3 separate regions of the Homo sapiens genome follow, and all the other regions are reported to be linked to region 1. The links are microRNA targets in miRTarBase. Many come from high-throughput screens and were not tested one by one. Region 1 holds a microRNA gene; each other region holds the end of a gene's coding sequence.
What was found. Region 1 holds the annotated microRNA hsa-miR-8072 (GGCGGCGGGGAGGUAGGCAG, at 3,011-3,030, opposite strand). A microRNA usually pairs through its seed, bases 2 to 8, with sites in the 3' UTR of a target mRNA and lowers its output. Matches are read on the target gene's strand: a 7mer-m8 pairs with bases 2 to 8, a 7mer-A1 pairs with bases 2 to 7 and ends in A, and an 8mer does both.

Region 2: miRTarBase lists MTSS2 as a target of hsa-miR-8072. Seed matches in the 3' UTR shown: 7mer-m8 at 2,500-2,506.
Region 3: miRTarBase lists GREM2 as a target of hsa-miR-8072. Seed matches in the 3' UTR shown: 7mer-m8 at 743-749 and 7mer-m8 at 746-752.

Annotation. Positions count from the first base shown.
Region 1 is chr12:123,361,804-123,365,870 of GRCh38, forward strand. MIR8072 (microRNA 8072) reads right to left here and starts at 3,040; the gene lies at 2,961-3,040. It overlaps SBNO1 (strawberry notch homolog 1), which reads right to left and starts at 3,044. Exons shown (of 32, transcript NM_001167856.3): 1 at 2,898-3,044. SBNO1-AS1 (SBNO1 antisense RNA 1) reads left to right here and starts at 3,145. Exons shown (of 2, transcript NR_157806.1): 1 at 3,145-3,312; 2 at 3,722-4,001. RefSeq lists enhancers at 1,710-2,428, 2,085-2,134, 3,595-3,804 and silencers at 2,615-2,724, 2,765-2,844, 2,955-3,194, 3,325-3,424.
Region 2 is chr16:70,660,076-70,664,142 of GRCh38, reverse strand. MTSS2 (MTSS I-BAR domain containing 2) reads left to right here. Exons shown (of 15, transcript NM_138383.3): 15 at 1-2,939. The coding sequence ends at 466. It overlaps IL34 (interleukin 34), which reads right to left. Exons shown (of 6, transcript NM_001393494.1): 6 at 3,461-4,067. The coding sequence ends at 3,956. Among named protein-coding and RNA genes, the nearest start is that of IL34, 16 kb to the right of the region's middle.
Region 3 is chr1:240,489,592-240,493,658 of GRCh38, reverse strand. It overlaps GREM2 (gremlin 2, DAN family BMP antagonist), which reads left to right. Exons shown (of 2, transcript NM_022469.4): 2 at 183-4,067. The coding sequence starts at 184. The coding sequence ends at 690. Among named protein-coding and RNA genes, the nearest start is that of GREM2, 120 kb to the left of the region's middle. RefSeq lists a silencer at 273-444.

The DNA of each region.
Region 1 (4,067 bases):
CTAACTCAGTGTCTCCCCTTCAGCAACTAAAGTGAAGATTTATTTAAGATTCTGAGGCCAGGCGCGGTGGCTCACGCCTGTAATCCCAGCACTTTGGGAGGCCGAGGCAGGCGGATCACCAGGTCAGGAGTTTGAGACCAGCCTGGCCAATATGGTGAAACCCCGTGTCTACTAAAAATACGAAAATTAGCCGGGCATGGTGGCACGCGCCTGTAGTCCCAGCTATTTGGGAGGCTGAGGCAGAATAACCGTTTTAACCCAGGAGGCAGAGGAATGCAGTGAGCCAAGGTTATGACACCGCACTCCAGCCTGGGCGAGAGAGCGAGACTCCACCTCAAAAAAAAAAGATTCTGTTGGGCGTGGTGGCTCACGCCTGCAATCCCAGCACTTTGGGAGGCCGAGGCAAGCGGATCACGAGGTCAGGAGATCGAGACTATCCTGGCTAACATGGTGAAACCCCGTCTCTACTAAAAGTACAAAAAATTAGCCGGGCGTGGCAGCGGGCACCTGTAATCCCAGCTACTTGGGAGGCTGAGGCAGGAGAATGGCGTGAACCCGGGAGGCGGAGCTTGCAGTGAGCAGAGATCGTGCCACTGCACTCCAGCCTGGGCCACTGAGCGAGACTCCGTCTCAAAAAAAAAAAAAAAAAAAAAAAAAAAAAAAAAGGATTCTGACGGGGGGGCCAAGGGCGGTGGCTCACGGCTGTAATTCCAGCACTCCGGGAGACAGAGGTGAGTGGATCACTTGAGGTCACTAGTGTGAGACCAGCCTGGCCGACATGGTGAAACCCCTTTCTGCCAACTACATAAAAAAAAATTAGCCAGGTGTGGTGGCACATGCCTGCAATCCCAGCTACTAGGGAGACTGAGGCAGGAGAATTGTTTGAACCCTGAAGGCAGAGGTTGCAGTGAGCCGAGTTCATACCACTACACTCCAGCCTGGGCAACACAGCAAGACTCCGCCTCAAAAAAAAAAAAAAAAAAAAAAAAGATTCTGAAGGGGCCAGGCACAATGGCTCATGCCTGTAATCCCACCACTTCGGGAAGCGGAGGCCAGAAGATTGCTTGAGGCCAGTAGCTGCCTCCCAACATGGTGAGACCCCCGCCTCTCAACAAAAAAATTAAAAAAAAAAAAATTAGCTGCTGTAGTGGTGCACATCTGTAGTCCCAGCTACTCCGGAGGCTGAAGTGGGACGATCGCTTGAGCCCAGGAGTTCAAGCTGCAGTGAGCTATGACCACGTCACTGCACTTCAGCTTGAGCAACAGAGTGGGACCCTGTCTCAAAAATTTAAAAATAGCATAAATATTCCAAACGCAATTATATGGAATAAGTTGGAATGGAAGATAAAAAGCAGAAGCCAGAGAAAAAAAGTAAAGTCGTCTCCCATCGGAAAAATTTTGGAAACAACTTCTTTAAAAGATGAGAGAAAATGTTCCCTTGCTTGCAAAATTAATGTCCCACTCAAGTCACCAGTAGGAAATTCTGCTATCTTCTGTGCAACGATGATAGCTTTCCCTACGCTTATGAAAATCAATTCTGATTGCTAGAAAATATGGTGGAAAATAGAATCCCTCTGTACTGTCAGCTCGCAGAATTATCTGAAAGTGTTAAGTCAATTCCTGCTAGGGCACTCCGGATGACAGTTCTCTGCACCCTTCTGGATGACTCTTTAGAAACCATATTCCATCCCTAATTCTGGCTGTCTAGAATATATGAAACATTTAACTCAACATAAAATGATAATAGCCAACTTTCAAAGGTCAAAGGGGACCAGTTTATAACCTTCCCTCAACACGTGTTCAGTACAAACTTCCGGGTGCACTTACAATTGGCTGCGCAATTCAATGGATAAAAACGTTGCTTTATTTGTCTCTCATTTTCTGGCCCGTTCTTTTCCCACGTTTCTCAACCAGCGACTCCCCAAAACAAAAGCCTCCCACAGTAAACCGAGCACGCACATAAAAAGAGCTTCTCTGTGCGAGGATCAAGTTAGTGGTCCGCAAACATTAACCAAACAGAAGCACAAAGCAGGGGTGGGAAGGGGAGGAGCTGGATGCCAGGGTCAGGAAAGAAACAATCAGAAGGGTTTAGGAACATCCAAATCTCCTCAGCGGTTAAACCGACCCCAAACCACTTCTGGGAAACCACCGGTATCCACTGCTTTGGGGAACTCTGGATGCTCGTTATGCCAAACGCTCTCAAAGTAAGCAAATCCCCAACTGCCGTTCCCCTCCATGGGTAATTCTTAGGGTCTGGGAGGTGAGCTCGCCCGCCGAGGCAGAACTAAGCGAGTCGCCTGGAGAGGCGTGAAGGGAGCCTGCACGTGTCCCCCGCGGCTTCCCCACCGCCCCAAGAGCGGGGCATGTACGAGACCGCGCTGTGGGGTTCAGATTTAGGAAGGACGACCGCGTCGCCTGCCTCCCTCCCTCGCCCAGAGCCGGGAGCAATGCTGGGGCACGAAAGAGGACTTGGGAAGGATCCGGTCCTTACTTTCCCCGCGGGTCCCGGACCCGCAGCCCCCGGGTTGTGAGGCGGAAGCCAAAGGGGCGAACCCAGCGGAGCCGGCGTGCACAGACCCTGCCCCGCGGTCCAAGAGGGGTGCCTCCGGCCCGGGACAGCGGGGCTCCCGGAGCCCGAAAGCCCCACGAGCGGCGACAGCGGGGCCCGGCGCTGACGAACAGAGGAAGCGAGTACAACGGAGCCGCCGTCGGGAACATGCCCCCGAGGGCCCCGGAGCGCGCGGCCGCGAGGAGCGGCAAGCGGCGAGGGAGGCCCCAAGCCGGGGCGAGGTGGCTGTCCCCCCAGCCTGGCCCCGCACGGCCCCCCGAGGGTGGGAGTGGGAGGCTGTCCGGGAGGGGGAGTGTGGAAGGAGAAAAGGGCCAAGGGAAGGACTTACTTTCCCCGCGGGACCCGGCGCCAGCACAGCTCCTCCCGGGAGGTGTGAGTTTGAAGGACCAGAGGCGACTGGAGCGGAGGCGGCGGTGGCGGCGGCAGCAGCGGCGTCCTGCTCTGCCTACCTCCCCGCCGCCATCTTGACGCCCCTCCCCCAGCCCCCCCGCCCCGCCGGGAGGGGCGGGGGAGGGGCAACGGATGAGGCGCCGCGCGCACGCAGCGCCCTCACGTGACTTCCTCCCTCCTCCCCCACCCGCCTCTCTGCGCCCCTCTCCGCCCCGCCTCCCTCCTAGGTGAAGGAAGATGATTTCCCCCCCATCTTGACCACCCCCCAGTCTTCGCCGCCAAAAACGGACTCCGCCGGCTATCCTCGGCCCGGTACCAGTTGTTGGATCCAAGAGAATTCCGGAACCCAAACGGTCCATTACCGCGGCTCTGGGGTGGGCGAGGGGTGAGGGGGCCGGGTTTCCGCGAAGGGGGAGGGGGAAGGCGAAGGCCACCTAGGAGAGTCACGTGACTACTGTTTCCGCCGGCGCTCACGGAGAGCTCGCGGTAATTCCGTTTCCCCGCCCTTTTTTCCCCGCGGCCTGTCGGGAAGAAGGTCCGCGTGCCAGGGCTATCGGGAGGTCGGCCGGAGGGCCGCGCGCATGCGCCCCGCGCCTGCTTTCAAACTCCGGTTAGGAAGGGCCTGGAGCTATTTTCAGAACCTGTTAGGGTGGGGAGCTACGGCCCAGGAAGTTACCTAGCAGCGTTTCTGTCACTTGGAAGATCTCTTCATTACCTAGTTAGTCCTAGAAACAAAATGTTTACATATTCATTGCTTGTTAGGCTCGCTCAAAGCACTTTATTGGCAGTGAAACCGCAAGTAACCCGGAGCCCTCGGCGCGACCACGGCTAGAATCAGAGCCTAAGGCGTGTGAGCTCAGCCATCCCACGTCTGTCTTCACGCTCATACGCAAGCCCGACACACCGGGGCTCCCACTTAATGAATACTGAAGAGTAGGGCTGTCCCTACCGCTTCTCACTTCCTTGTTTTCATCTTTTCGTTATTATTAAGCGACCTAACACAATAAACATATTACCTTGTTGGTAACCCTTTTGTAAAGTCATTCTGAAAGTGCTGTTTGACTCCGTTGCTTGGGTAATAAGCACGCCTGGGTGATTCTTGCCCCCT
Region 2 (4,067 bases), not on the chromosome of region 1:
GAAGACGCCCACGGTGCCTGACTCCCCCGGCTACATGGGGCCCACACGGGCGGGCAGTGAGGAGTGCGTCTTCTATACCGACGAGACCGCCTCACCCCTGGCACCGGACCTCGCCAAGGCCTCCCCAAAGAGGCTCAGCCTGCCCAACACAGCCTGGGGCAGCCCATCCCCAGAGGCAGCCGGGTACCCCGGGGCAGGGGCCGAGGACGAGCAGCAGCAGCTGGCGGCCAACCGGCACAGCCTGGTGGAGAAGCTGGGGGAGCTGGTGGCGGGTGCCCACGCACTGGGTGAGGGCCAGTTCCCCTTCCCCACTGCTCTGTCGGCCACCCCCACGGAGGAGACGCCCACCCCACCCCCAGCCGCCACCAGCGACCCCCCGGCCGAAGACATGCTGGTGGCCATCCGGCGTGGGGTCCGGCTCCGCAGGACCGTCACCAACGACAGGTCGGCGCCCCGCATCTTATGATGGCGCCACCCTCCCCATCCTCTCAGGCCCCAGTGCGAGCAGGTGGCCTGGTCTGTGAGCCGCAGGCACTCAGAGCAAAGGCCCAGCCAGGAGAGAGGACAGAGCCAGGGCAGAGGCCATGCCACTTTATGGAAAGACACCTCACTTGGATTCCAGCATTTAAACAGGAAGTGACTTCTTAGCAAGCCTGGCCAGGACGGAGCCTGCAGGCCTGGGCCTGGTTCGGGGTCTGTTTTATGCTCTTCGGTCCCTCCTCTTCCTCCTCTGGGGCCCTGCCTCTTCCCTACCCATAAGCACCAGAGCCAGGGCCGCTGCCCATGACAGAGGGGCCAGGCTGGCCTCCCTTTCACCATCCCGGCCTCTCCCAGGGCTGGTCCTGCCTCAGCTCCTCCTGGAATGCTGGCCCCCCTCTCCCCTGCCTGAGCCCCCTCCTCCCCTCTTGCCTTCTCTCTGCCTCTCCCAGGCCCCTCTCCCTCCAGGAGGCGGGGCGGCTGTGGAGGGGCCAGGTGCACGCTGGGCTGGATGTCTGCTGGGGGCTGGGGGCCAGGGCGGCAGGTTGGAGTTGGGCGGCCAGGCCCCCCGTGTGGGAAGGGAGTTCCAGGGCCCACGCCAAGTCTCAGGGAGGAAACCAGGGGCTGCTTGGGGGGGGGGGTCTTGGGGGCCCTGTGGTGGCTCCCACCCCTCGCCTCCCCCACCCCGTGAGGCTGGCTGGAGGGGGCCAGAGCAGCTCTTTGGAAACTAGGGCAGCAGGGTTAGGAGGCCGGAGGCCCTGGGGTCACCGGCCAGCCACACAGGCACCGTTTTCAGATGTCCACTTCTCATTGGGTACATCAATCTTTTAACTTTGGGGGTCACAGTTTTAGCCACCTTTCGGGGGGTGACTGGAGCAGTAGGAGGTGTGGGGTCATTTTATGAATATAATAAAATGGAGCTGACTGTGGACGAGGACTAAGTGTGGGGGAGAGGGGACGATACAGGGTGTGTGTCTGGGAGTGCCTGGGGGACAGGGACCCCCCGGTGGTCCTATGGCAGGATGAGAAGGGAGGGACTTGGCTCCCCCAGAGCCCGGTGGAAGCTACTGTTCTCTCCAGTGTCTCGAGCGTAGCCAAAATAAGGTTGGGAGGCTCCCGGCCTGTCTGCTGTGGTCTGAGCTGGCTGCAAGCCCAGGTGGGGGAGCGAGTCTGGGAAGATTGGCTTTGACTCTCTGTTGCCGGAGGAGATGCCATCCCAGCACGGCCCCCACTGTAGTCCAGGCTCGTGGTGGCAGCGGGGGCAAGGGGAGGGGCAAGGCTGCCCCCACCCCACGCACCAAGTCACGCCAAGTCTCAGCAGGTAAAAGCACGTGAGCCTAGGGCGAGCGGAGGGAGTCCTGGTGGCCCCGCAGGTCAGGAGGGAAAGCAGGGCTCAGAGGGCATCGTGGCCCCAGGGCAGGGTCCTACCTGGGGGTCAGGAGCACCTTGGTCTTGATGATTGATTGATTGATTGATAGAATGGAGCTGGGTCTGAGCCTCCCAGGCTTGAGCTCCTGGGAGTTCTTGTGCGGTGAGCTGGGCAGCTCCTGGGTAGGTCCGGGCACCAAGCAGGCCCTGATGTGGACAGAGTCCCATCAGAGGGAGCTGATGAAGAATGGTCCCTGTAAGTAAGTCACTAGGTTCAACAACTGCCTGGCCGAGCACTCAGCCCGTGGAGCTCAGGCCAACACCAGAGCCCCGGTTTTAGGGGCCAGGAGAGCAGGTGACCAATTATTTGGGGAGTCTTGGGTAGAATTTCCGCCACACATTCTCCCCAGGGCTGCAGGGGTCTTCCGAGGCAGGGCGGTGGAGCAGGATTCAGGATGTGGTGGGAATAGAGTGAGGGGCAGTGGGTGGGCAGACCTGGGCGTCAGAGGTCCTGATGGGAAAGGAGGCAGGGGCTACCCAGAGAGGGGGGCTCGTGTGGCACAGCCCCCACCGACTCCGCCGTCCCCCTCCCCTGTGAGCCCCGGGGGCTGTACATACTCTACTCCATCCCCTTGTCCATCCCTGAGACCACCCCCGCCGCCCTTGCGTCGACTTAGCAACCACCTCATAGGCCCACCCACCTCGGGATCCGAGCCAACCATCCCACATCACAAACTTTGGTTTGGGGGACTTTACGTTCGTTTAATTTCTCATTTTGTACGGAGAAATATTCTTTTCAAAAGCGTCTTTTGACTGAAGTAACTTTCCTGGTGCTGTTGTTAACTCGTTCCTTTTTTTAATTTATTCCCCCACCCCAGGCAGCCCTCCTGGTTCCTACTCACCCTCCCCCCCTCCCCCACCCTCCGTCCCATCTGAACCATTTGTTTCTTTTCTTTCCGTCAGATTTTGGAAAAATTCTCCTCTCCTCCCCGCCCCCTCCACACCATCCTCCCCGATTTAAATATAGTCACTGCTACAAGTAACAGATGCACTGTGAAGATTCCAGTATTAATAAAGGTGTACTGTAATTAACACCCCTGCCTCTGCCTGGCTGCTTCCTACCCCATCCCCACACCTCACCTTTCCCACCCCAGATCCCAGCTGCAGGGGGACAGGCTGGGGGTTCCCAGAGGATCTCAGATCTCAATGTAGGTGCCAGGGCCAGACCTGGGTCTCTGAAATGTCCCATATGTGTCCCTGCTAGGGGCTGCCTGGGGGCAGCCAGATGGAGGGAGGGAGGGAGAGAGGGAGGGAGGGAGAGAGGGAGGGAGGGAGGGAGGATGGCAAGGGTCAAAGCCAAGGTATCAGCCCAACACCGCCTCCCCCAACCCAGGCTTGCAGAGGCCCCTGGGCTGGGCTGGGCTGGGCTGGGCTGGGCTGGGCTGGGCTGGGCTGGGCCGGAACTCCATCCCTGGCATCCCTCTCATTCCACATCCCTTGGGCAGGCTCCATCCACTCCAAATCCGCATCCTCAGCCCTGCCCCCCTCCACTTCCTGCACTTGGCCACCTCCCATCCCCGCCAGGTTCACCCCTGAAGATGCAAAGCAAAGCAAACCAAAGGAAGTGGGGTGTTTAATAGAAAAAAGAAACTGGAAGAGCATCCACTATGGCAAGATGTGGCACTTGGCACCGCCCTCTGCCCCCAGCTCCCCAGTCTGCCAGGCTGGGGGGTCATAGAATGGCCACGCCGTGCTGGCTGTCTCCCCTGCAACCCACAGCTGTGCCCTCACTGCTGCGGGCCACAGGAGGCTCAGTACCCCCTTTAGGCGGGGGGACAGTGAGGGCAGCACCAGGAGAAGCCAGGAGCTGTGTCCCCATCCACCTTCAGGTCCCCAGGTCCCCTCCGCTCCAGGTGAGGCCATGACAGCTATGGAAGGCAGGAAGCTGAGCCCTGCTGTGGCACAGAATCCCCCTCAAAGGAAAAACACCCTTCCCAGGGGTCCTCTCCCAAGGGGGGCTCCCACCACCACCCCTTGAAGTCTCAGACCCAGTTGAACTCCTGTGGGAGCTGGTCTGGCTGCCCCTATCCGCAGTCACCATCCAGGGTGCTCAGGGCAAGAGGCCCTCGCCCTGTGCCCTGACCGGCCTCACCGAGCCCGTGGAGTGAGGCGGGGAGCTGGGGGACCACGGGGGCGGAGGGTACAGCTGGGTGGCCGCATAC
Region 3 (4,067 bases), not on the chromosome of region 1:
AGCCACACAGGAGGCTGAGGCAGGAGGATCCCAGAGTTTGAGCCTGCAGCAAGCTACGTGCCCCTGCACTCCAGCCTGGGCAACAGAGCCAGACCATGTCTAAAATAAAAAAAAAAATAAGTAAGATTGATCCCGTACTCTACGGCCCTTCACAGCCAGCCCCTCTCTTTTCTCGTTTGCAGGATGTTCTGGAAGCTTTCCCTGTCCTTGTTCCTGGTGGCGGTGCTGGTGAAGGTGGCGGAAGCCCGGAAGAACCGGCCGGCGGGCGCCATCCCCTCGCCTTACAAGGACGGCAGCAGCAACAACTCGGAGAGATGGCAGCACCAGATCAAGGAGGTGCTGGCCTCCAGCCAGGAGGCCCTGGTGGTCACCGAGCGCAAGTACCTCAAGAGTGACTGGTGCAAGACGCAGCCGCTGCGGCAGACGGTGAGCGAGGAGGGCTGCCGGAGCCGCACCATCCTCAACCGCTTCTGCTACGGCCAGTGCAACTCCTTCTACATCCCGCGGCACGTGAAGAAGGAGGAGGAGTCCTTCCAGTCCTGCGCCTTCTGCAAGCCCCAGCGCGTCACCTCCGTCCTCGTGGAGCTCGAGTGCCCCGGCCTGGACCCACCCTTCCGACTCAAGAAAATCCAGAAGGTGAAGCAGTGCCGGTGCATGTCCGTGAACCTGAGCGACTCGGACAAGCAGTGAGCGCCGGGCCGGACGCAGCTCAGCCCCGCGCGCGCCCGGCCGCTGGGTGGCGCCGCCGCCGCCTCTGTCCCTGCCCTCCGAGCCCACTGTCACGCTGCCTGGTGTTCCCCCTCAGCAGCAAGCACTTCTCTTAGGGCTGACGGTGTCCTTGTCACAGACGTGGATCGCAAGTGGAGCTTTTGCTGATGTGTTCCTGACCGACCCCGGGTCCCACCTGTGCCCCCTAAACCAGGCGGTGGATCAGGCCCGAAGGAAAATGCTGGAAAACCACCACCGCCACCCAGCAGTCAGAGAGGACCTTTCGAGGTGATGCACTGTAAATCCGGCATTGATGTTTCCACCATGTGGAAAAGCAAGGATTTCCCTGGCCCCGCCCTGCACTCCAGCTCGCCCCTTTCCCGCGCGAAGTGAAGGATGCGTCACTTTTCTGAGCGGCCCCTCAGACCTCTCCTGCTGGTCCCTGGACCTCTGGCTGGGAGCGCTCATTCTTGTGACTGGCAGGCTGCCCTCGGTCGCTGCTGTGATGAGGATATGTGCAACCTCCATAAATATGTCGGTGGACGGGGCGTCTCCTAATAAACCTGATACCAAGAAGACAACTTGAGCCACTTGGATCCCGAAGTGGGCTTCCCGGGAAACCTCGAGCAGAGCAGGCTACACAATCCCCCATCCTCAAGTCCCCACCGCCTCTTCTTCCTCACTGTCCCCGCCCCCTATTTGTGGACTAAAGATGAACTCTGGTGTGCATGCTATTATTGCTGCAATTAGAATATTATCACACACAAAGGTCTCTATATTAACGCTGGTTTTATAAGTGACCGTATATTGTAAAGAGCTGTTAAAAAGTATTATAGACCTATTCATGTATTATTTCACATGTTTTGACTCTGGCTTGCAGCACCATTCGGAGTAAGGATGACAGCAGGCCCAGAAGGTGTCTTACTCAGAAAAAAAAATGCCTGGTCAGCAATTCACTGTCATGCACCTATTTTTAGATTGGGCAGGGAGATGGGAGGAGTCGTGATTTTTACTTTGAATACTATTTCACTGACGTTACTAAGCATTGCAGCACAATGTAGAAATTGGCTTGGGATGGATAGGTATAGGGAAGGGCATTCGTTGGGAAATTGATGACCGGAAACTAGAAAGCCCCTATAATGTGGAATATGCATATGTGGGGTGAAACCGTATACTACTTTCACTGCCATGACACTAGGCAAAAAATATTTCCTGTTAAAAGAAAGAGAAAAAGAGAGGGATATTGAAAAATATAAGGAGTTGAGTCGCTTTGTGGTATAGAAGGGAGTAAGGAATAAAAGATATAGAATAGTAATCTAGTTGAACTGTTCTGCACAAAACATGCTTCCTTTTCAAAGAATAGACTTCAAAAGGGACGAACAAACATTAGGTCACCTTTTGTGTTTATAATGAATTGTTGACGTTTCCATGCTGTGGTCTCTTGATATACGGAAGTAGACGTAACTTATTTTCCAGCGAAATTATATACTTCTTCTGGGCTCCTTTGCTCAGTTGCCCCAGGAAGGCTTCCCTGTGAGTAATGCTTATGGAATCTGACAAATGTGAATGAGCTGCCATTGGTGGGAATCAGTAAACTTTGAAAACCTTTCACTGATGATTCCCTGGTAAGTGCTCCTGTGAGGGGCCACTTCCCTAGTATGTGAGAGAGACCCTCTGCAAGCCGCTGTGGGGACTTAGCTTCCTGATACTAGGTAGTGATGGTGGATCTAGAGACATTCACTTGAAGAGCAAGGATTGGGGTGGGGTGGGTTGGTGAATCTATCTCAGGCCACTGCACTGCAAGGTGCATTTCTGTCATTTCTGCAACACCATGAGACCTGAGCAAGAATGTGCTGTGGCAGAGGGGGTCTTGGTTTCATAAATGGGTATATACAGCCTGAACTCAGGAGGCAGAAATCAAAAGAAATCCTTGAGGGCTGGAACCTGAGGATAGAGCGAAAATGGAGAGAAGGGTGTTCAAGGTCAGGAGTGATTTTTGCATTTGGTGGAAAACCTCAAGTCAGACTCAGTGGCAGAACATGCAGCAGAAAAGCTGTGAAGGAAGGAAATTTACGTGATTGTAATGGAGGCTAGGGGTGGATTGGGAGGTGAGTGGAGGAGAGTCTCTGACCAGCTGCAGAGCCAACCCCTATCATTTTATTAACATGGAACCCACACAGATAGGGGAGGGATTAAGCTAAGAACTTACAGAATGCAAACACGAGCACACTCTCTTCGAACCCAATTGTGGGTGTAGCAATGAAAGCAATATGATATGCTGCAGTGTGAAGCTCCTTCTGGGGTTATCGTATGTACAAAGTTTACCTTATAATGGCTCAAATTGTATTTAATTTTTTTGTTTTGTTTATAAATGAAGAAAAGCTATAAGTATAATGTAATTATTTTATAGGTATACTATTAAATTATAGAACAAATAAAGATAATCTAGGATTATATGTGATCCCGGTGTGACGTGCCATAAAAGTGGAATTTTTGACTTGTTGCAGTGAGCTGTGAAGCAGCACTATGCGTTCAGAGAGTTTTTGTTCAACCATGGTGAGTTCAACCTCTAGCTTATGTCACATGATCTCCTTTGGGGTCTGGAATCTTCTAAGAGAAATAGAATCAGGCATCCAAGGAGCAGAAGTGATGGAGGTGGCCCTCAATCCTGGTCTTTGGAAGCTTCCAAGCCTCTTCCACATCCCCTGCCAGCTGAAGACAGAGTATTCTCACTGTGCTGGCTGAAGGAGAAACACTAAACAAGGAAACCTTGAGAAACTGCAGCAATGGAAGTCCACTGTTAGTCTCTCCGTTAGCACCAGGGACACACTTGTTCTGAGTTTTGTTCATTTTCACATTTACTCCTCATGAGTTCCAACATTTCTTAATTTAAATATTTCTTAGTTTATAGCATCTCCATTTTTCTATTAATTGACTTAATCTGCCATTTAAGAAAACTCCGTAATCAATAAAAAATAAAATCCACAATCAAACTGCACATGGTTGATCCACTGTGTAGGCTTCAAAGGAATTAAACTCAACTTCCTAGGAAATAATTCATCTTAGTTTATTAAATGGGACAGAATATTTCACTGCTAACGTATTCTAACTCACTTGTTTTTGAAATTGGCCAGATGATTTTTAAGTTATAAAGTCAATGAAAATGACTTTTGCTATTGTGTGAACAACTTAGAATGTATATATTCCCAGAAGGCTTATTTAATGATTGACCTATCACCACTGATTATTAATGTCTGCATGAATGATAACAATAAGACCAAGTCATCAATAATGCAATGAAAATTTTTTAAGTGAAAGCAAGTTTATTAAGAAAGTAAAGGAATAAAGAATGCCTACTT